4 linked regions of the Homo sapiens genome follow. The protein of the gene in region 3 purifies or fractionates together with the protein of the main gene of each other region. This does not show direct contact. Each region holds a gene or a part of one and is shown on either strand. Other genes may lie near its edges.

Region 1 (5,229 bases), on a different chromosome or scaffold from region 3:
CAGCTCACTGCAAGCTCTGCCTCCCAGGTTCACGCCATTCTCCTGCCTCAGCCTCCCGAGTAGCTGGGACTACAGGCACCCGCCCCCACGCCTGGCTAACTTTTTGTATTTTTAGTAGAGACGGGGTTTCACTGTGTTAGCCAGGATGGTCTCGATATCCTGACTTCGTGATCCACCCGCCTTGGCCTCCCAAAATGCTGGGATTACAGGCGTGAGCCACCGCGCCCAGCAATGCTGTGCTTAACAAGAGTCAGGTGGGCTTGTTCCCAAGCTCGTCCGTAAACCAATGAAATGGGAATGGGAAAAGGACTGCTGTTTTTATGAATATTAAGTTTTGTTTTTTTTTTTTTTAATTGAGACAAGGTCTTGCTTTGTCACTCAGGCTGGAATGCAGTGGTACAATCACGGCTTACTGCAGCCTCGACCTCCTGGGCTCAAGTGATCCTCCTGGCCTCAGCCTCCCAAGTAGCTGGGACCACAGGTGTGCACCACCATGCCTGGCTATTTTTTTTTGTATTTTGTAGATTTGGGATTTTGCTATGTTGCTCAGGCTGGTCTCAAACTCCTGGGCTCAAGTGGTCCTCTTGCCTCAGCCTCCCAAAGTGCAAGGATTACAGGCATCAGCCACCGTGCCCAGTCATGAATACTAAGTTAAACCCTTAGAAAGACTCTGTAAAGGTGCGAAATCAACCAACCAACAAAACACTGTTGCCAAATTAGGTTTAGGAAAAGATAACTGTAAAAGACTGGGGGGCAGGGAGCTTAACAATGTAAGCTGATTCTCCTATACTGGGGTTCCTTTGCCTGTGTCTCAGTCTGCAAAAGGAAGAGAAGAGCTGAATTACAGTCAGAGAAAGGCTGTGCATGAGAAGACCTGGGGATTGTGGGACACTGACTGACTTCTTCAATTAACGAGCCAACCACTGGTCTAAAAGGGTTAGGTGAAGGGTTTCTGCCAAAGTGGGAGGGACCTATCATCCTGTTAACAATCCACAGTCTACTAGTCCAGAGGACCACTTGACCTTTGCAACTCTGAGACCAGGAAAAAGGAAGCCACTGTGGGAGGTGTTCAGACAGAGGGTAAGAGGCAGGGCCAGCCGCAGAGCTGCCCTGTGGCTAGCTGCGGCCACGTGGGCCTCCCCCAGAGCTCCAGGGCCTCACCTGCATAGGTGGTGCCATCGATGTCCACAGACATGTTAATGCTCCCAATGCTACTCGTGGTCAGGTTCAGTGCTGCAGCCGAGGCCTCTGCTCTGTCTTCTGCTGGGGACAGGGAGACAGTGGGCCTGGTCAAGCCTTCCACAGCACTCCTGTTGTCCTCTCTGATGCTGCCTGGCCACCCCTGGTCAAAGCCTCACGCTGTTAAAAGGCATCTATGTAACCTTCTCCTGAGTGTAGGGTATGGCAGGAGATCCCAGGCTCGCCAATCTCCTGTTGCTGGCTTTTTCCACTGACCCAGTTCATCCCCTCAACTACCTCTGCTCCCAGAGAAAAGGAATCACAGTAGGCAAGGAGGCCGGCTCCGGCCCCACCACTCTGCACTGGCACTTTCCAAGTGACGGGCAAACCCTGAACTACACTATACACCAGGCCCAGGAAATCAGAGATCAATGAGACCCAGCCCCAACTTTGAGGACCCACCTGCCCTTTCTTTCCTTTGACTCTGAGTCCCTCAGAGAGAGGAGTCTACGCCCTCAGCCCCTCCCCTCCATGACCACCCAGGCAGCTGGCGTTTGTGGAAGCCTGCAAGTGCTGGCACACACGGCCTTTGGCTGGCTCACCCCAGACTCAGAATTCTTCCCGGTGAGCTGTCTTTTCTAACAGCCCTTTGCTTTGTGCAGGAGCAGGGTACCTGGCCCTGGATGAGCTGTTACCTCCCAGTTTCCTTCTGGTCCCCAAGGGCAATGGGGTAGGAGGGGCAGCCTGGGAATATGTATAGCTCCCTTCACACCTGGCTCCTTCCCACACATCTCATTCATGTTTGCTTTGAGATAGCATCAGGACCAGAATGGGAAAGAATGTGTGTGAATGGGAAAAGGGGCGTGTGGCTTGAGGAAGAGAATGTGGGGCACCAGAACAATGTGAAGAGGAAGGGAAAGGATGTCAATTATGCTGCCAAACTTGTGTTTCCTCCTTCTGTCTATATTCCTGAGTCCCACTGTCCAGCCCGGGGCAACTTGGCCCCTCGCTGAGCCTCAGGAACATGGGGTGTCTTCCTCCCAGACCTGCAGACGGTGCCCTGCTCTTGCCTACATCCAGTGAGGTGCTGGGGTAATGGCTGGTGGGGAAACGCAGCAGCTCTCTGAAGGCCTCTGGCTCCTCCTCTGTGAATAACTGCTTTTCCCTCTTACTAGAGAACAGGGCACTGCCTGAGGCAACATGTGGTCCCCTCTACCAAACAACCTCAGCTTGGTGAACTAAGATCTCAGTGCCTCTCTTCTAGGGGCCTGGAAGGCAGAACCTGGAGGGGCCTCTTCCAGGTCAGGAGTATGTGCCTCACCACCCCTGCCCCACCAGTCCCAGGAGGCGTGAATGGGCTTGGGGTTTCCAGGAAGGGAAGGCCCGGCCCTGAGCCTGGCTCACCCCTGCCGTTGATCCTGATCTTCATGGGGAGCTGCCGTGCCATGCTGAAAAAGTTGCGCTGGAAGGCCTGCTGCACCAGGCGCTGCTCCTCCTCAGACAGCCTCGATGCCTTCTTCTCAGCAGGCTCCCCTGACTCCAGCCGCTCCCGCAGCTGCTCCAGTGCGGCGGTCCGAGTACCAGCCTGCTGGCTTGCCAAGGTCACGGGCACAGCCAGACGATTTGGCACAGGCACTGTTGTCACTGGGGCTCCATCACCTGCAAAGGAACTGGAGCTGGACCAATCCACAATTGACCCTCTTGCCCCAAAACCCCAGTCTTGAACACAGGGAACTGGCATCCCTTCCTCCCTTTCTTCCTTCTCCCCCAGGAGCCCTGCTGACCTTTCCTGAGAGTGGTTGCTGGGGATATCCGAGGGCTACTGGTATTGGTACCACTGCTGGAGCCAAGCCCAAGGATGGGAAAGCGGATCTTGGGTGGGGAGAGAAGGGCAGGGGCCCCGGCAGCGGCAGCAGCAGTAGCCGCAGCAGGTGAGTAGCCAAAGAGGGAGGAGCTGTAGCTGGGCCGCCGGCCCTCCCTGCGGTTGCCATCAATTGCTGCCTGGAGCTCGGCTGGGGAACTCAAGGCTTTCTTCTCACACTCATAGGCATACAGATACTTCATGTACCTGGAGGAAAGGAAGCAAGCAGGGAGAATAATCCAAAACAGCACCAGAGACCACCCAGTTGAGGTTGGTGGGTCTCTGGAAGCAGTCTCTGTTGGGCAGGACTCTAGGGCAAAGGATTGCAACCTTGGTATACTTGGCAGAAAAGTCTGGGATGGCCGGACACTCTGCCCCAGCCTCCTCTGACTGCCACTCAATCCTAAATAGGCTCTACTTTGAAGCACCATTCATTAGGGGAAATAAATAACATCTTAGTTGGCGTTTTCACATTTGTTTTGAAGCCCTGGGAAAAATTAGGCCCATGTTTTACAAGGGCTTTCTGACTTCTTGATCTTATAACCATTCAGAGCTGGGCTAGTCAGATAGGAGCAATTCTTCCCATTGTGCATGGGACCTAGACACTGTCATTCTTTGTGTCTTAGGTCCCAAGAAGCAGTTCTCTACCCAAGAACCTTGCCATTCTGGTTGTAGCTACAACATGCTACCTAACTGATGTCAGTTGTTCATTGCATACTCTTCACAGAACAACTTCCAGAGTGTTCCAGAAGAAAAGATTCCTCTCTGGCCCTCATTCTTCAGTGCTACTATTGGTTTCACCGCTTCCATCACCCATGTAATTAACTCAAATGCTGACAAAACCAGGTCACCAATCCAAGGGGGCCTTCCTGCCTGCCTTTCTCTGGGTCCTCTGCCGCTGGGTAAGCTGAATATCAGGTAAGAGGGGCCACTTGGGGTGGAGATGCTGTTTGGAAGACAATGTCCTGGAAGGGGCACAGGTCTTAGAGACAGAAGCCCAGGTCTGAATCTCAGCTCTACCACTTACTGGCTGGTATATGACCTTAGCCAAATTATTTAACCATGGAGACTTCATTTTTGTAATGTGGGAAATGGGGGCATACCTACTTTACAGGGTTGACTGTGAGGTTTAAATGAAATAGTAAAGTACCAGCACAGAGTAGACACTTGGTAAATGGTGGTTCTCATCACTACTTGGTTTAGTGAGGGATTCATCTCAGAAAGCTCCCCACTGTTTCGGGAATCCACTCATCTTGCTAACCATACAAAGGAATTTCCTTCCTTCCTCTCCTCTAGGTTACAACATCCCCTTTCTCCAGCCTCAGCTTCCTTCTCCCAGGCCCTGGCCACTCACTGCGTCCTGAGGGTGAAGGCGGCGCTGGTGATGGATGTGGGCAGGTTTAGGCCTTTGGTGATCTCCCTCCAGATCTTCTTGTTGATGATCTCCACCAGGCCTCCCTTCTCGGTCACCAGCTTATACAGCATGTACAGGTCCAGGATCTGTTTGGCCATGATGGGGATTCGGTTGATGGGGGTCCCTGTGGTTGTCCAACGAGAGAAAGAGACAGCGGGATCATCATCAGGCTGAGAAGAAAGATTCCGTGTATGCCCACCTTTAGCCGAGCTGGAAACAATGCTCATCAACCTGGAAGTGTAATTTAACTCAAACTCCCCAAGCCTGAACACTCAGACTAGCTGTCAGGACAGGTCCAACGCACAGGCTGTGTGGGCCTTTGGCAAAGCACTTAGCCTCTCTGGTTCTGTTTTGCCGTCTGTAAATAAGAGGGCCAGACTAGATGATTTCAAAGGTGCTTGTTTTTTAGTTCGTGTGTGTGTGTTTTTGTTTTTGTTTTGCTGGCAGTATGATTCCAGACTATTCCTAGTGATCTGGCGACTTATCTCTGCAGCTTTCAGACTCCATTCAGCGGCAGCTTCCTCTGGGATGCCTTTCTCTGACTTCCTAGAAGGGGAGCCCTGCCTAGTCACCCTCCTGGCAGCGCTCAGTGCTGCTTATAAGAGTGTGCTCGCTGGCTGGGTGCGGTGGCTCACGCCTGTAATCCTAGCACTTTGGGAGGCCGAAGCGGGCAGATCACGAGGTCAGGAGATCGAGACCATCCTGGCTAACATGGCGAAACCCCGTCTCTACTAAAAATACAAAAAAAATTAGCCTGGCATGGTGGCAGGCGCCT
Region 2 (5,229 bases), on a different chromosome or scaffold from region 3:
TATCTGTCAGACATTAGAATTGTCTTTAAGCTAATAGAAAATACAGATCATTGAGTGATCAATATAGGCCAGCGGAATGGAGTAGAAAGCCCAGAATGTACAGCAGTGCATGTGTGCGAGCTGATTCGAGACAGAGCTGTGTTGTAGATAAACGGACAGAGGGTGATTCGAAAGGTAGACTGAGTCCAGCTTGTATTGGGTCGTAAAAGAGATTTATCTTATAGGCGTTTAGAATTGAAAGCGGGGTTTTTAAACAAGTGGTCATGATTTTTTGGAAAAGGGATTATCGCATAGTATAGGGAACAGGGCAGGCTTTGCTGCTGGACAGACTTAGATTCAAATCTTGGCTCTGAGGCTGGGCGGGATGGCTCATGCCTGTAATCCCATCACTTTGGGAGGTCAAGGTGGGAGAACCTCTTGAGTCCAGGAGTTCAAGACTAGCCTGTGCAACAGAGCAAGACTGTGTCTCAAAGAAAAGGAAAAAAATGCTTGGCTCTGACATCTAGTAGCTATAAGGTCTTGGGCAGACAATCACATAACATCTCTTTTTCTTATCTCTGAAGTGCTGTTGCAGTGATTGAGGGTAATATTTAAAAAGCACCTATTACAGTGGCTGTCAGTAAGTGGGTACCCAGTATACAGCAGCCAGACAAAAAGATGTAAAGCATGTATGGAGAAATGTTTTTGAGAGGAGGAAGATTTTGAGACGAGTTCATCAGCCCAGAAGGCTCTGACAGTCATATAAATGAACATTAATGACCGTAATATCATTATCCCTCTTAATAATTTAAGAGGGATAATTAATATTATTTAATATCTAGTTATTATTTTTGATATGCAAACTTTTCCAGCTTTGGACTATGGGTTCCAAACTGGCTCCTGTATCCTTTATTTTGATCCCAGCAGTCTTCGACAGATAGCTTCATTGCTTTTTGCCCACCTTCCCAAAGTCCATTTTTAGCCTATACCGAAGTTGGGTGTTTCTTCAGAAAGCTTTGGTTTCTTCCAGTTAGAACTGTAGAGACTACAGTCTAAGTTTTAGGAGAGATAAGATAGACAGATCCTCTAGAAAGGGGAATATAAATAATTCATAATATTCCAAATTCAAATTTATGATAGTAGGATTTTTTATGTAATTTATTTGATTTTATATTTTTATGTATTACACCAAAAATGTCGGTTTATAATTACTTTGATCCTAGTAACACGCAATTTCTTTTTTTTTTTTTTTGCCGGAGTCTTACTCTTGTCGCCCAGGCTGGAGCACAGTGGTGCGACCTTGACTCACTGCAATCTCCGCTTCCTGAGTTCAAGCGATTCTCCTGCCTCAGCCTCCCAAGTAGTTGAGACTATAGGTGCCCGCCACCATGCCCAGCTAATTTTTGTATTTTTAGTAGAGACGAGATTTCACCATGTTGGCCAGGCTGGCATCGAACTCGTGACCTCAGGTGATCCACCCACCTTGGCCTCCCAAAGTGCTGGGATTACAGGCATGAGCCACCACGCCTGGCCCATGCAATTTCAAAATAGCGGTATCAGTGTCATTGTTAACACTGTCATTATTAAGACGGCTGAAGTCAGTTTAAGAATTGTGATTCATTTGTCTTTATATCCCTGTGTGAATGCTACGGACATGTAATCAATATATCGTGTTTTAAAGTAATGTTAATTGTCCTTTGGGTACACCAACTTTATATACAGTGAGGTTCGTTTGTTCAGTATGTTTGAAAGTTACAGGGATTTCTGTGTTTTCCTTTTTGAAATAGTTCTGTTTTAAATTATGTAAAATCTTTGAAACAATAAGTTGTTTCAAAAAAAATACACTAAAACAAGATACACTCAAAAATTCAGTTTCCATCCCTTTCCACTCTACATTTTTCCTTCCTCTCCATTTTTATTTTTTGATTATCCTTTATTGTTTTTTAAACGGTATGCATATCAGTGTATCTGAAAACCGCCACCTTCTAACATTTAAGGTAGTAGACAGTATATACAGATTTGAACCTTGCTTTTTCACATAATAGATAGTTGAGGTCATTCCATAGCAGTACACAGAAACTCATCTTTGGTCTTAAAACTGCATAGGTACTTTAGTCCTCTGTTGACAAATGTTGGGTTGTTTCAGTCTTCTGCTATCACAAATAATGCTGCAAAGAATACATTTGTTCATATGTCATTTCATCCTTGGCAATTTTGCCTCTGGAAAGTTCCTAGAAGTCAGATTCCCAGGTCAAAGGTTAAATGCGCATGTAATTTTGCTGGATATTGTTAAATCCCCCTACAGAGCATGCACCACTCAGCATTCCCCTCAGCGTTGTATGAGAGGGACCATTTCTCCATGGCCTCACCAGCAGATTTGGTTATTGTAGCTCTGGGCTTTTACCAATTTCACAGGTTAAAAATAGTATCTAAGACAGGCGTGGCAGCTCATGCCTGTAATCCCAGCACTTTGAGAGGCCGAGGAAGGCAGATCACTGGAGGTCAGGAGTTCGAGATCATCCTAGCCAACATGGTGAAATCCTGTCTCTACTAAAAACATAAAAATTAGCTGGGCATGGTGGCACATGCCTGTAATCCCAGCTACTCAGGAGGCTGAGGAAGGAGAATATCAGGAACCTGGGAGGCAGGGGTTGCAGTGAGCAGAGATAGCGCCACTCCACTCCAGCCTGGGCGACAGAGTGAGACTCTGTCTCAAAAAAAAAAAAAAAGCCAGCCGAGCTTGGTGGCTTACACCTGTAATCCCAGCACTTTGGGAGGCTGAGGCAGGTGGATCACCTGAAATCCGGAGTTTGAGACCAGCCTGGCCAACGTGGCAAAAACCGGTTGCTACTAAAAATACAAAAAATTTAGCCAGGCGTGGTCGTGTGTGCCTGTAATCCCAGTTACTTGGGAGGCTGAGGCAGGAGAACTGCTTGACCCTGAAAGGCAGAGGTCAAGTGAGCCGAGCTCACGCCACTGCCCTCCAGCCTGGACGACAGAGTGAGATTCTGTCTCAAAGAAAAAAAGGTATCTAATTTTTGTCTCTTATGAGTAGTTTGATCATCTGTTCATATGTTGAATGATTATTTTCAGTTCTGTTTCCATGAGTCTTAGTTCATATCCTTTACCCATTTTTCTGAAGGGCTACCAGCCAAATCTCATGTTCAAGAGTTTTTCCTATAGTAGAGAAACCTATTCCAAATGAAGCAAAGTTTTGAACGTAAAATAGAAACCATAGAAGTGCAGTGTTAGAAGAAACAGGCTCCTCACGCGTTGCTGGTGGGAGTGTCAGTTGGTACAGCTCTCTAGAGGGCTTTGTGACAGGAATTGTCCACATAAGAGATACATGCACCCTTTGATCAAGCAGCTTTACCTTTAGGAAGTTATCCTACACACATACTGGGAAATGGATACAAGGATTTAATGTAACATTGTTTTAATAATAGCAGCTTGGAAACAATGTACATGTTATCTTTTCAGGGAGCTGACTGAATAACTTACAGTATTGGTGTAAGTTGGAATATACTATGTAACTATGAAAAAGAATAAGGCAACTGAAGAAGTACTCATGAGAATGATCTCAAAAAGCAATTACATAAAAACAAGGCTCAGAACTGTATAGTATCCTCTATTATTCGGGCTTTTAAAAATCTTTTAATATGCATAAAATAATTCTTACAGGATATATTAAAAACTGGCAATCATTACTGAGATAAAAAGGAAATTTACTTTTTACTGTACAGTCTTTTTTTTTTTCTTTCTTTTGAGACAGAGTCTCGCACTGTCGCCCGGGCTGGAGTGCAGTGCTGTGACCTTGGCTCACTGCAACCTCCACCTCCTGGGTTCAAGCAATTCCCCAGTCTCAGCCTCCCAAGTAGCTGGGATTACAGGCACCCACCACCATGCCCGGCTAATTTTTGTATTTTTAGTAGAGATGGGTTTTCACCATGTTGGCTAGGATGGTCTCGAACTCGTGACCTCAGGTGATCCGTCCGCCTTGGCCTCCCGAAGTGCTGGGATTACAGGCGTGAGCCACCACACCTGGCCCCAAGTTGTTGTCTTTTTCTTAGAGATTTGAATACGCTCTTTATATGTTCTAGATACAAGCTGTCTGTCATGTATGTGTTGCAACAAAAAAGTGTCCTGCTCTTGCCATTCTACTTCCTTGTGGTTAGCATACTTTGTGTAGTATTCAGGAAATCTTTGCCTACCTAACCTAAGGTCATGATAATTTTCTTCTGTGCTACCTTCTAGAAGCTTTATTATTTTATTATTACTTTTATATGTAAATCCATAAACCACCTGAAATTAATTTTTGTATATGGTGTGAGGTTGGAATCAAAATTAGTTTTTTTTGTGTTTGGTGGTGTTGGTGGTTTTTGTTGTTGTTGTTGTTGTTTTTTACTGTAGAAATACCCATTTCTCTTAGCAACATTTATTGAAAGGACCATCCTTATTTCTCTGCAGCACCGTCTTTGTCTAATTTAAGTGTCTGTATATATGTGGGTCCATTTCTAGACTCTGTTTTGTTCCATTGGTCTATTTTTCTACCTACCCTTGTGCCAGTCTTTGTTTTACCCCTAGCCTTATACTTTAAGTCTTGATAGAGTCAGTCATCCCACTTTCTCATTTCTCTTCAGGACTGTCTTGTATCTTGGCCTTTTGCATTTTCATATAATTTTTAGATCAACTTGTCAATTTCCACAAAAAAAAAAAAAAGTTCTGAGATACTGATTGGGATTGCCTTTCATCTACTGATTACTTTGGATGGAATTAACATTGTTACAATATTGACCTTGTTTACTTCTAATCTATGAACATGGAATGTCGTTATTTATTTATTTAACTTTTGAGACAAGGGGTCTTGCTCTGTGGCCCAGGCTGGAGTGCAGTGACATGATCATAGCTCACTACTGCCTTGAACTCCCAGGCTCAAGCGATTCTCCTGCCTCAGCCTCTTGAGTAGCTGGGACCACAGGCATGCATCACCACACCTAGCTAATTTTTAAAAACTTATAATAGAGACACAGTCTCACTATGTTGCCTAGGCTGGTCTCAAACTCCTGAGCTCAAGCAATCTTCCCACCTTGGCCTCCCTGAGTGCTGGGATTGTAGGCGTGAGCCACCATGTCCTGCCTCCTTCATTTATTTACATCATCTCTATTTCTTCTCTGTAGAGGTTTTACTTCTTTTTTATTAGATTTACAATCTCGGCTCACTGCAGCCTCCACCTGCTGGGTTCAAGTGATT
Region 3 (5,229 bases):
TTTGCGAGTCTAACAGTGCGCCCGGGTGAATCAAGCTACTGGTACCTCCGCTACCGCCACCACCACCACCAAAACGCATTGGCGAAGTGGAGGGTTCATTAGGGCAATGAGCACAGCAGCTTACTTTGGGGACAGAAGAAAGCTGTATTTTAGGCTGCTGAAGAGAACGAATATCAGGAAGTGGGACTGCTGGAAAAAGCTTAGAGCCAGCATGAAGGGGTGATGGTACATCCTTTAGTTCCACAGCAACTTTCTTGTTCTCCATGTACTCTTTCTGAGAAAAGAAAATCAGAACATAAATTAATTTTATGAGGTCCGTGGTTTTTTGGTTACTCATATCTTACTGCATGCACAAACAGAAATAGTGTTCAATTCTGTTACATCACTAAATCATAACTGAACAAAATGGAATCACAGCTAGTTAAAACCAGGAACATTCTTCAGAGAGGTCTGCAGGACATGAACACTGGAACACACAACTAAAATTAAGACTACATTCTTCCTGAATTGAAACAGACTGGGGTGGGAGGGCCTGTTTACATCTTTAGCAGCCACCATGCCTCAGTAACTTCCTTTTGGTAATTTCCCCTTGCCTCACAGAATCTTCTGAAGACAAAATAGGTGGTATGAAAACAACCCCTCACAAACAGCATTCAATAAAGATGGCTAACACACACAGTGGTTTGAGGACAATACTTAATAGTTCTGTGGTCAGGCCATAAGGGGTTTTAGTAAGATCCCCCAAAGGAAAAGAGTAAAGTTTCAAACACAGATGAGATCAGCCATCTACCCAGATGGCCCATCCGTGTTGCTGATGACATTTCATAAACCCTAAGATATCATGACCTAAAGCCATAATGACAATTATATTGCAGCCAGTGAAAAGATTTAGAGAATTAGAAAACTATCCAAGAAAAAGATCCAAGACAAATAGTTTGCCACATGACTCCAACACAGACACAGGAAGCCAGTATATTACAAAGGTTCTGAGCAGAGCATCAGTGGCAGAGACCTGGGTTAGAATCTGATACTCAATAGTTGTATGACCTTGGGTAAGTTACTTAACCTACACTTTGGTTTCCTCATCCATAAACTGGGAATACAATATACCTCCTAGAGTTGCTAGGAGGATAAAATAAGATAGAGCACATAGACCACCTGGCACAGTACCTAGCCACTGAAAGGGGACTGAATTCATCAGCCTTCACAGGCTGACTGCAAGAGACATTAAGATGAAGAGGGGGCCCTGCTACAGTGACTGAGACGTGCTCACCGTTCACAGCATATGAGGGTCCATCTGACGCCTAAAATTCCACTCCCTTTGCTGTGATTCTACACTCACCTGGGAGCATAGGCTCATCTGGAAGAAATGTGAATTTTCAGCTAAACTTTCCCTAAAAGGGAGATAACAGCAACGGGCTGACCAGCCAATGAACTGCCCTCTTGGTAATTATAGTTCAGACTGAAATTAACACACTGGTATTCTGATTTATACAGATCAGGCTCATACAGGCAGGCTTACTATGAGTTGATCCCCTGAACCTACTCCATTCTGCATGCCACTGACAAAATTGAGTTTCAAGATCTGTAAAGTTGACCGTGTAATTCTGAATTGTGTGACTCCATGAGGACCAGATCTACCACCCCATCCCAGGAAGCCTTGCTTTTGATGCCAACCCTCACTGTCAACTGTCTCTAAAATAAAACACTCCTAAAATGACCCAAATTACTTGATGTCTTGCAACAAAGACAACTATATAGTGAAAACCTAGAGAAAATAGAGAATTAAACTGGTTTTTAAAAAGTTATTAATACCCGGCCAGGCGCGGTGGCTCACGCCTGTAATCCTAGCACTTGGGAGGCCGAGGCGGGTGGATCACCTAAGGTCAGAAGTTCAAGACCAGCCTGGCCAACACGGTGAAACCCCATCTCTACTAAAATACAAAAATTAGCCAGGCATAATGGCGAGTGCCTGTAAACCCAGCTACTAGGGAGGCTGAGACGGGAGAATCCCTTGAACTAGGGACAGTGGTTGCAGTGAACCCGGATCGTGCCACTGCACTCCAGCCTAGGGGGCTGAGCCGAGACTCTGTCTCAAAAAATAAAATCAAATAAAAGTTGTTAATACCCTTATATAAAATTATATTACAGTCTCACTTGAATCCCACATACAATAGAAAATAAGAAATAGAAAGGTGGTAACATGAGTGCATGAAGTCAGGAAATGTCAAAATTGGCTGGACGCGGTGGCTCACGCCTGTAATCCCAGCACTTTGGGAGGCTGAGGCGGGAGGATCACTTGAGGTCAGGAGGTCAAGACCAGCCTGGCCAACATGGCGAAACCTCGTCTCCACTAAAAATACAAAAATTAGCCAGGCATGGCAGCACAGGCCTGTAATCCCAGCTACTGAGGAGGCTGAGGCAGGAGAACTGCTTAAACCTGGGAGGCAGAGGTTGCAATGAGCCGAGATCGCACCACTGCACTCCAGCCTGGGCCACAGAGCAAGACTGCACCTCAAAAAAAAAAAAGAAAATGTCAAAATCACAATGAGTAAGCAAGAAGTTAGAGACATAAATGTATACTGAGAAGTAAATATTCAAGAGAAATCTCGAAATAAAAAACAGGCAGTGGATAAGCTCTTCCCAACCCTTCCTAGATTATAGACTCAAAACTCAAGAGGGCTACAGTAAAATACAACATATTTTGTATTTTCCTCTGATTTTACTCCACAATGTGGATTTTTAATCTTTGTTACCTGTGACTTTAATGAGGAAGAAATCTTTCCCAAATTTTAACATTAAATATTCAAGGCATCTACTGTTACTCAAAGTGAAATAGAAGAGTTAAAAAATTGTGCTGTGCTCTCACATTATAATGTGGTATAAGAGGCAATACAGGCAAGATCTACAGAAAAATGTGGCACAGACTCTAGGATGAGAGACTGTATCCCAGACCAAATGGACCTCTCTCATCTATTTGGATGAGGAATCTGCTACATCCTTAGTCTTGCATATAGTTACCGTTTGGGGACTATGTGGCAGCGTCTGCTCAGGACGAGAAAAGCAATTAGAGAATTTCCAAAGCCATGGCTTAGCATCATTATCTTGTTGAAGCCATCCACGTGTTCTACTGCAGGAGTTCTCAGTTCCGTTTCCTTCCATCATACAGCCATGCAAAGTGATTCAACATCCTTTCATCTTTCTTTTCTTTCATTCTTCCACCCTGTTAAGAATGAGTAAGATTTCAGTGTTATTTCCTTGCATAAGTACAAATTTTACAACATACTAAAATGTGAAACCACAGCTATATTTACAGTCCTATGGCTCTCAACAATTCAAATCTTTGTTTCAAGAGGAAGTCTCGCTCTGTCGCCCAGGCTGGCATGCAGTGGTACGATCTCAGCTCACTGCAACCTCCGTCTCCCGGGTTCAAGCGATTTTTCTGCCTCAGCCTCCAGAGTAGCTGGGACTACAGGAGCCTGTCACTATGCCTGGCTAATTTTTATATTTTTAGTAGAGATGGGGTTTCACCAAGTTGGCCAGGCTGGTCTTGAACTCCTGACCTCAAGTGATCCACCCTCCTCGGCCTCCCAAAGTGCTGGGATTACAGGCATTAGCCACTGCGCCCGGCCAACAATTCAAATCTTAACAAACAAAATAATAATAATAAAATAAAGAAAGAAAAAAACACAAAATATCAGAGCATATTACGGGTTAATAAAATTTGGTAAACTTGGTTGACTGTTTATGCTTAAAATCTAACTGCAACAACCTGATTTCTTAAAAAATCTATAATCTGCCATTCTTCATGTTTCATAGCTCTTCAAATAAAAAATGAACTCTCCATGAGTCTTGTTTCCTTTCCACATGTAACCATGTTTGAGAGAGGTAGCCATATCTTGGAAACTTGCATATTCCAGAGTGAGACTTCACCTCCTCACTTGGCTGGAATCAATTTTTTCTACAGTTTTTCTGAATTCTTTTCGGCTCTCTCTCCCTAAAGATGCTGCTCAGGAAAGTCAAAAGTTAACAGAAGAGAGCATCTAATCTGAGTAAAAGAGCCACCACCACATCCTCATTGACAACTATATGTAAGATTTTAAAATTGACTTAAGAGCAACTTCTTGCACTGGTTTCTTGATCTGAGCATGAAAAGTCCAAACTAAGTGGCCTCTGTGGACTTTGAATTTGATTTGCTACAGAACAAATTGAACCAATTTCTTAGTTTACTAATGATGAAAGTGCAATCTGATATACCACCAAAAATCTAACTGATAGAAAAATCTCAAGTCGCAGATGTGTTATATCTACGCCAGAGCAACAACACTCTTACAGGTCTTAACAATAAATGCAAGCGAGGCACCGTGGCTCAGGCCTGCAATCCCAGCACTTTGGGAGGCCAAGGTGGGTGGATTGCTTGAGCCCAGGAGTTCCCAACCAGCCTGGGCAACATGGCAAAACCCCATGGCTACAAAAAATTAGCTGAGCGTGGTGGTGCATGCCTGTAGCCCCATCTACTCAGGAGGCTATGGTGGAAGAATCACCTAAGACTGCGTAGTCAAGGCTGCAGTGAGCTGTGATTGCACCACTGCACTGCAGCCTGGGCGACGGAGTGAGACCCTGTCTCAAAAACCAACAAACAAAATTACATGAAATTAAAATGTCAGTGTCCATAAATAAAGTTTAATTGGGACACAGACACACTCATTCACTTAAATACTGCCTATGACTGCTTTTGCATTCCAATTGCAGAGTTGCAAAGAGAGTCTCTGCAAAGAGACTGTATGGCCCACAAAGCCTATATTTACTACGTGGCTCTTTTGTCAGCCTGGGCAATATAGCAAGATCACAGCTCTAAAATAAAATAAAGTTCAAAAAATTAGCATAGTGTGGCAGCATGCGCCTAGTCCCAGCTACTAGAGAGACTGAGGTAGGAGGATCTCTTGAGCCCAAGAATTTGAGGCTACAGTGAACTATATTGTGCCACTGGCCCTTCAGCGTGGGCAACAGAGTGAGATTCCATCTCTAAAAAAATTTTTGTTTTCAAGTTTCTGTTTCCTCCTATGCAAAATGTGGCTAATTTCTCCCCGCCACTGCATTACAGAGAAAAAAAAAATTAGATAAATGAACCCCACTGTCTATTTTCACCACTGTATCTCTTGTGCCAACCAAAATGCTCCCTACTCTGTAAATACAAAGTAAACATTACCTACTACACACTATTGGGAG
Region 4 (5,229 bases), on a different chromosome or scaffold from region 3:
CACCCCAGCCTGTGCGACAGAGCGAGACTCTGTCTCAGAAAAAAAAAAAAAAAAAAAAAAAAAGAGGTTCAATAACATTAGTCATTAGGGAAATGTAAATTAAAACCACAATGAGATACCACTTCACACCCACCAGAACAACTAAGATTTAAAAAAAAATGGACAAGAAGTGTTAAGCAAGAATGTGGGGAAATTAGAACCTATACACTGCCGATGGAAACGTCAAATGGTGCAACAACTGTGGAGAACAATTTGTTAGTTTCTCAAAAAGTCAAACATAGTTACCATATAACTCAGGTTCCACTTTTGGCTATATATCCAACAAAAATGAAAACATAAGTTCACACAAAAATTAACATACAAATGCTCATAGCAGCATCATTTGCAATGGCCAAAAATGGAAACAAACCTAACATCCATCAACTGCTAATAAATAAACATAATGTGGCATATCCAAATAATACACTATTACTCCGTCATAAAAGGACCAATGGATTCATGCTACAATATGAACGGACCTTGAAAAGATAAGGCTAAATGAAAGAAGCCAGTCACAAAAGGCCACACACTGTATGATTCTATTTATATGAAATGTCCAGAACAGGCAAATCCATAAGGACAGAAAGTAGATTAGTGACTGCCAGGGGCTGGGGGACAGAGGGATGGGAAGCTCCTGCTAACAGGTACAGGTTCCTTTTTGGGCTGATGAAATGTTCTGGAATTAGATAGTGGTGATGGTCGCTCAACTTTGTGAATATACTAAAAACTACTGAATTGTACACATTAAAAAGTTAATTTTATGGTATGTAAATTATATCTCAATTTTTAAAAATCCACACCATGGCCAGGCGTGGTGGCTCATGCCTGTAATCCCAGCACTTTGGGAGGCTGAGGCAGGTGGATCACGAGGTCAAGCGTTTGAGACCAGCCTCACCAACATAGTGAAACCCCGTCTCTACTAAAAATACAAAAAATTAGCTGGGTGTGGTGGCGGGCCATCTGTAATCCCAGCTACTCGGGAGGCTGAGGCAGGAGAATCACTTGAACCTGGGAGGTGGAGGTTGCAGTGAGCCGAGATCGTACCACTGCACTCCAGCCTGGCCAGTAAGAACGAAACTCCGTCTCAAAAAATAAAAATAAAAAAATTCACACCATAGCCAAATAGGGTTCCCTGGGTCCACCCTATCCAATGTCAGCAACACAAGAGGCAGAACACATGTGGAACAATTTCAGAGAGGATACAGACAGTATAAAAGTTAAGAGAAACATTCCCCAGAGAGCTCCCAGCCTGGAGAAAAGGCTGACAAATCTTTAGGCCCCAAATGAAGATCTAATCCAGTGGTTTTCAAGTGGGGGGCAATTTTGCCCCCCAGTGGGACATTTGGCAATGTCTGGAGACATCTTTAGTTGCCATAGCTGGGTGGGGAAGTGCTACTGGCATCCAGTGGGTAGAAGCCAGGGTGCTGCTAAACAATGCATGGGACAGCTCCTTACAGAAACAAATTATCCAGTCCAAAATGTCAACAGTGCTATGGCTGATCAACTGTGGGTTTAATCCAACGATGGGTTCAATTGCTTTTTTAAATCCTAGGATTTATATAACCTAGGGACCTGTTTGATAATACTAATTCCAAATATGTCAAAACTTCTACAAGTAGCGGAGCCTGCCTCAAACCAGAACCAGATGTAGCCGGCCCCAGGCACATCTCAGGCAAACCAGTTTCAAAAGAGCAGTCCAGGCCTTTCCACCCTCAGAGCCAGGCACACGTGAGGCAGCCAGCGAGACCTCCTCTCCTCAAAGGCATAGGTCTCAAGCAAGGAATTAATACCGTCAAAGGACTGCATGTCAGGTTTCATCCCTAAATGGCTAACCAAAGCTTTCTTAAAATACAATATTTCTTTTTTTTTTTTTTTTGTGACGGAGTCTTGCTCTGTCGCCCAGGCTAGAGTGCAGTGACACGATCTTGGCTCACTGCAAGCTCTGCCTCCCGGGTTCACGCCATTCTCCTGCCTCAGCCTCCCGAGTAGCTAGGACTACAGGAGCCCACCACCATGCCTGGCTAATTTTTTGTATTTTTAGTAGAGACGGGGTTTCACCGTGTTAGCCAGGATGGTCTCGATCTCCTGACCTCGTGATCCACCCGCCTCGGCCTCCCAAAGTGCTGGGATTACAGGCGTGAGCCACTGCGCCCGGCCTTTAAAGTACATTATTTCTTAAAATACTAACCAGTAAAGTTTATCTGAAAGACTTGCATAAGGAATGCAAATTTTTTCTCACATAAGAAAGTATAAAAATATGTTTACGAAAGGGTATGTTGCTAACCCTATACTTGCTGGTATATGCTAAATAAAATCCAAAGCATATACACAGGTCCCATCTGTGAATGCTATCTACTTTTCCACCTGTCCCTGCCAAGCTCAGTGGCCCCAGGTTAGCACTCGCCACCAAATTTCTAGGCTCTTTAGTGATCCAAGAAAGGTTCAACTGTCTTACTCTGAAAAGAGTTTAAGGAAGTTGTTTCTTCTGTTTTTGTTTTTTTCTTTGAGACAGAGTCTCTGTGGCCCATGCTGAAGTGCAGTGGCATAACCTCGGCTCACTGCAACCTCCCCTTCCCAGGTTCAAGCGACTCTCATGCCTCTCTCCTGAGTAGCTGGGACTACAGGCATGAGTCACCACGCGCAGCTAATTTTTGTATTTTTAGTAGCGACAGGGTTTCGCTATGTTGGCCAGGCTGGTCTCGAACTCCTGGCCTCAAGTGATCTGCCTGTCTGGGCCTTCCCAAAGTGCTGGGATTACAGGCGTGAGCCACTGCACCTGGCCAAGAAAGTTGTATTTTAAATACAGCTGGGCTTTTAGGACCATAATCCACAGGTTACTTCAAGGTGAGCCTGAAAAGGGAGTGGATTCTTCCCTGTCTTCATCATATAAAAGGAAAACAAGTAAATATAAATTATCTGAAAATCTATCACTCAGAGAAAACTACTCTTAGCATTTTGGTATACGTAAACCTTCTAGAATTTTCCTAGACAAATATGTCCATATCAACTTGTTTTTTGTAAAAATGAGACCATAGTCAGCCAGGTGCAGTGGCTCACACCTACAGTCTAAGCACTTTGAGAGGCAGAGGTGGGAGGATGGCTTGAGTTCGAGTTTGAGGCCAACCTGAGCAATACTGCAAGACCCCATCTCTACAAAAAAATTTTTAAAATTAGCTGGGTGTGGTGGCATGCACCTGTAGTTCCAGCTACTTGGGAAGTTGAGGCAGGAAGATCCCTTGAGCCCAGGAGTTTGAGGTTGCAGTGACCCATGATCAGGCCACTGTCCTCCAGCCTGAGCAATGGAGTGAGACCCTGTCTCAAAAAAAAAAAAAAAAAAATAGTACAGCCATACAGTTGGATACTGCTTAAGAAAGTTGCATTTTTTTTGAGACAGTGTCTGCTGGGAAGACTGGTGTGCTGCTGGGATAATGATGGTGGAGCTGCAGATTTCTTTTTTGTTTTATTTTCCCAAAGAGCTGGGATCACAGGCATGAGCCACTGTGCTCAGCCTGGCTGTACCCTTTGATTTTTTTTTTTTTTTTTTTTTTTTTTGAGATGAAGTCTTACTCTCACTCTGTTGCCCAGGCTGGAGTGCAGTGACATGATCTCGACTTACTGCAACCTCTGCTTCTTGGGTTCAAGCGATTCTCCTGCCTCAGCCTCCCAAATAGCTGGGATTACAGGCATCTGCCACCATACCCAGCTAATTTTTGTATTCTTAGTAGAGACAGGGTTTCACCATGTTAGCCAGGATGGTCTTGAACTCCTGACCTCAAGTGATCTGCCCACCTCAGCCTCTCAAAGTGCTGGGATTACAGGCATGAGCCACTGCACCTGGCCTGATTTTTTTTTTTTAACCTCTTCTACTAGACTTTAGGGTTGTCCTTACTATTTTGTTACAATCCTGGAATGACTACCTTTGTTCATATATCCTTTTTGCGGCTGCCTGATTTTTCCTTAGAAGAAATTCTCATAAATAGAACTGCTATTTAATATTGTGGTTTTGGCCAGGTGCGGTGGCACACGCCTGTAATCCCAGCACTTTGGGAGGCTGAGGCAGGCAGATCACTTGAGGTCAGGAGTTCCAGACCAGTCTGGCCAACATGGTGAAACCCCATCTCTACTAAAAATACAAAAATTAGCTGGGTGTGGTGGTGCAAGTCTGTAGTCCCAGCTACTCGGGAGGCTGAGGCAGGAGAATTGCTTGAACCCAAGAGGCGGAGGTTGTAGTGAGCCGAGATCGCACCACTGCACTCCAGCCTAGGTGACAGAGCAAGACTCCGTCTCAAAAGCACAAATATTGTGGTTTCACACTGCCTAAGTGCCCTTCTTAAAGTCTGACAACGCATTCTGTCACCGGCAACCTATGAAAGTTGTTCCTCTTTCAAGGACGGAGTACAGAGCTGTTCTATGACACACTCTCCCATCACAGGAAGGTGTCCACCCTCAACCTTAGCACCCTGGCAGCGCGGACCCTGATGACACGCCCCAAGATGGTGATATTCCACCATCACAGACTAATCCCTTAATTAGTTTTGGGCTATGCACCAACAACTCAACAATAGTCTATCCCAGGTGTCAGCTATTTCTAATCCAGCCTCATCCATCTGGATGGAAACCTAGCTTAAACACCCACAGGCCATTTTTGCTAAACAAAATGCCTTGTGGTGGAGGAAAGCATCTCTGTGGCCACATTTAGTCTAATTTACGGCAAATCTGTCAACTAACATGCTTCTGGCCACAATGCATTCCTAACCAGGGTGACGTTCCTCCATCTTCTAACCTAGGGTCAAACCCCAGCCCACCTCAAAGCTGAGGTCTCCCCTGGTTTGCTGCCTCAAGTTTGGCAGTTGTGGGTTTGCAGGCACAGGTGAAAACCCGATGAGGAACTTACATAGAAGTGAAAATGCAAGAAGTGGGCCAGTACTCTGGGGGTCACGCCAGGGAAGGCAGCCAGGAGCTTCTGGAGGTAGACCTCCAGATCCTTCTCCCTCTTCTCCACCAAGCTTCTTGAGTTTTTCCCAATTATCTTTTTGGGCGGAAGCAGATTTTTATCAATCTTTCTCTCTGCAACGAGCTGTAAAAAAACATAAGCACATCAACCACAGACTAAGAGGCTCTGTGCCTATGTAAGACCAAGGCAAGAAGCTTGAGGGCAGGCGCTTGTCAGCACTTGCACAGCCCCTCCCT

What was found.
Region 1: the proteins of MARF1 (region 3) and ARID3B purify together in Homo sapiens (affinity purification with mass spectrometry, with the first as the bait; one large-scale study listed by BioGRID). This does not show direct contact.
Region 2: the proteins of MARF1 (region 3) and POM121 purify together in Homo sapiens (affinity purification with mass spectrometry, with the first as the bait; one large-scale study listed by BioGRID). This does not show direct contact.
Region 4: the proteins of MARF1 (region 3) and NISCH purify together in Homo sapiens (affinity purification with mass spectrometry, with the first as the bait; one large-scale study listed by BioGRID). This does not show direct contact.

The regions. Positions count from the first base shown.
Region 1 is NC_000015.10:74,589,169-74,594,397, reverse strand, and holds part of ARID3B (AT-rich interactive domain-containing protein 3B), read right to left. Parts: exon of another isoform or gene 4,579-5,229; coding exon 4,395-4,578; exon of another isoform or gene 4,337-4,394; intron 3,943-4,336; exon of another isoform or gene 3,292-3,942; intron 3,248-3,291; coding exon 2,964-3,247; intron 2,839-2,963; coding exon 2,584-2,838; intron 1,264-2,583; coding exon of another isoform or gene 1,261-1,263; coding exon 1,162-1,260; intron 1-1,161. UniProt on the Homo sapiens protein: Transcription factor which may be involved in neuroblastoma growth and malignant transformation. Favors nuclear targeting of ARID3A.
Region 2 is NC_000007.14:72,930,359-72,935,587, forward strand, and holds part of POM121 (nuclear envelope pore membrane protein POM 121), read left to right. Parts: intron 1-5,229. UniProt on the Homo sapiens protein: Essential component of the nuclear pore complex (NPC). The repeat-containing domain may be involved in anchoring components of the pore complex to the pore membrane. When overexpressed in cells induces the formation of cytoplasmic annulate lamellae (AL).
Region 3 is NC_000016.10:15,636,069-15,641,297, forward strand, and holds part of MARF1 (meiosis regulator and mRNA stability factor 1), read right to left. Parts: intron 3,224-5,229; 5' UTR 3,166-3,223; coding exon 3,022-3,165; intron 275-3,021; coding exon 1-274.
Region 4 is NC_000003.12:52,458,549-52,463,777, reverse strand, and holds part of NISCH (nischarin), read right to left. Parts: intron 5,117-5,229; coding exon 4,934-5,116; intron 1-4,933. UniProt on the Homo sapiens protein: Acts either as the functional imidazoline-1 receptor (I1R) candidate or as a membrane-associated mediator of the I1R signaling.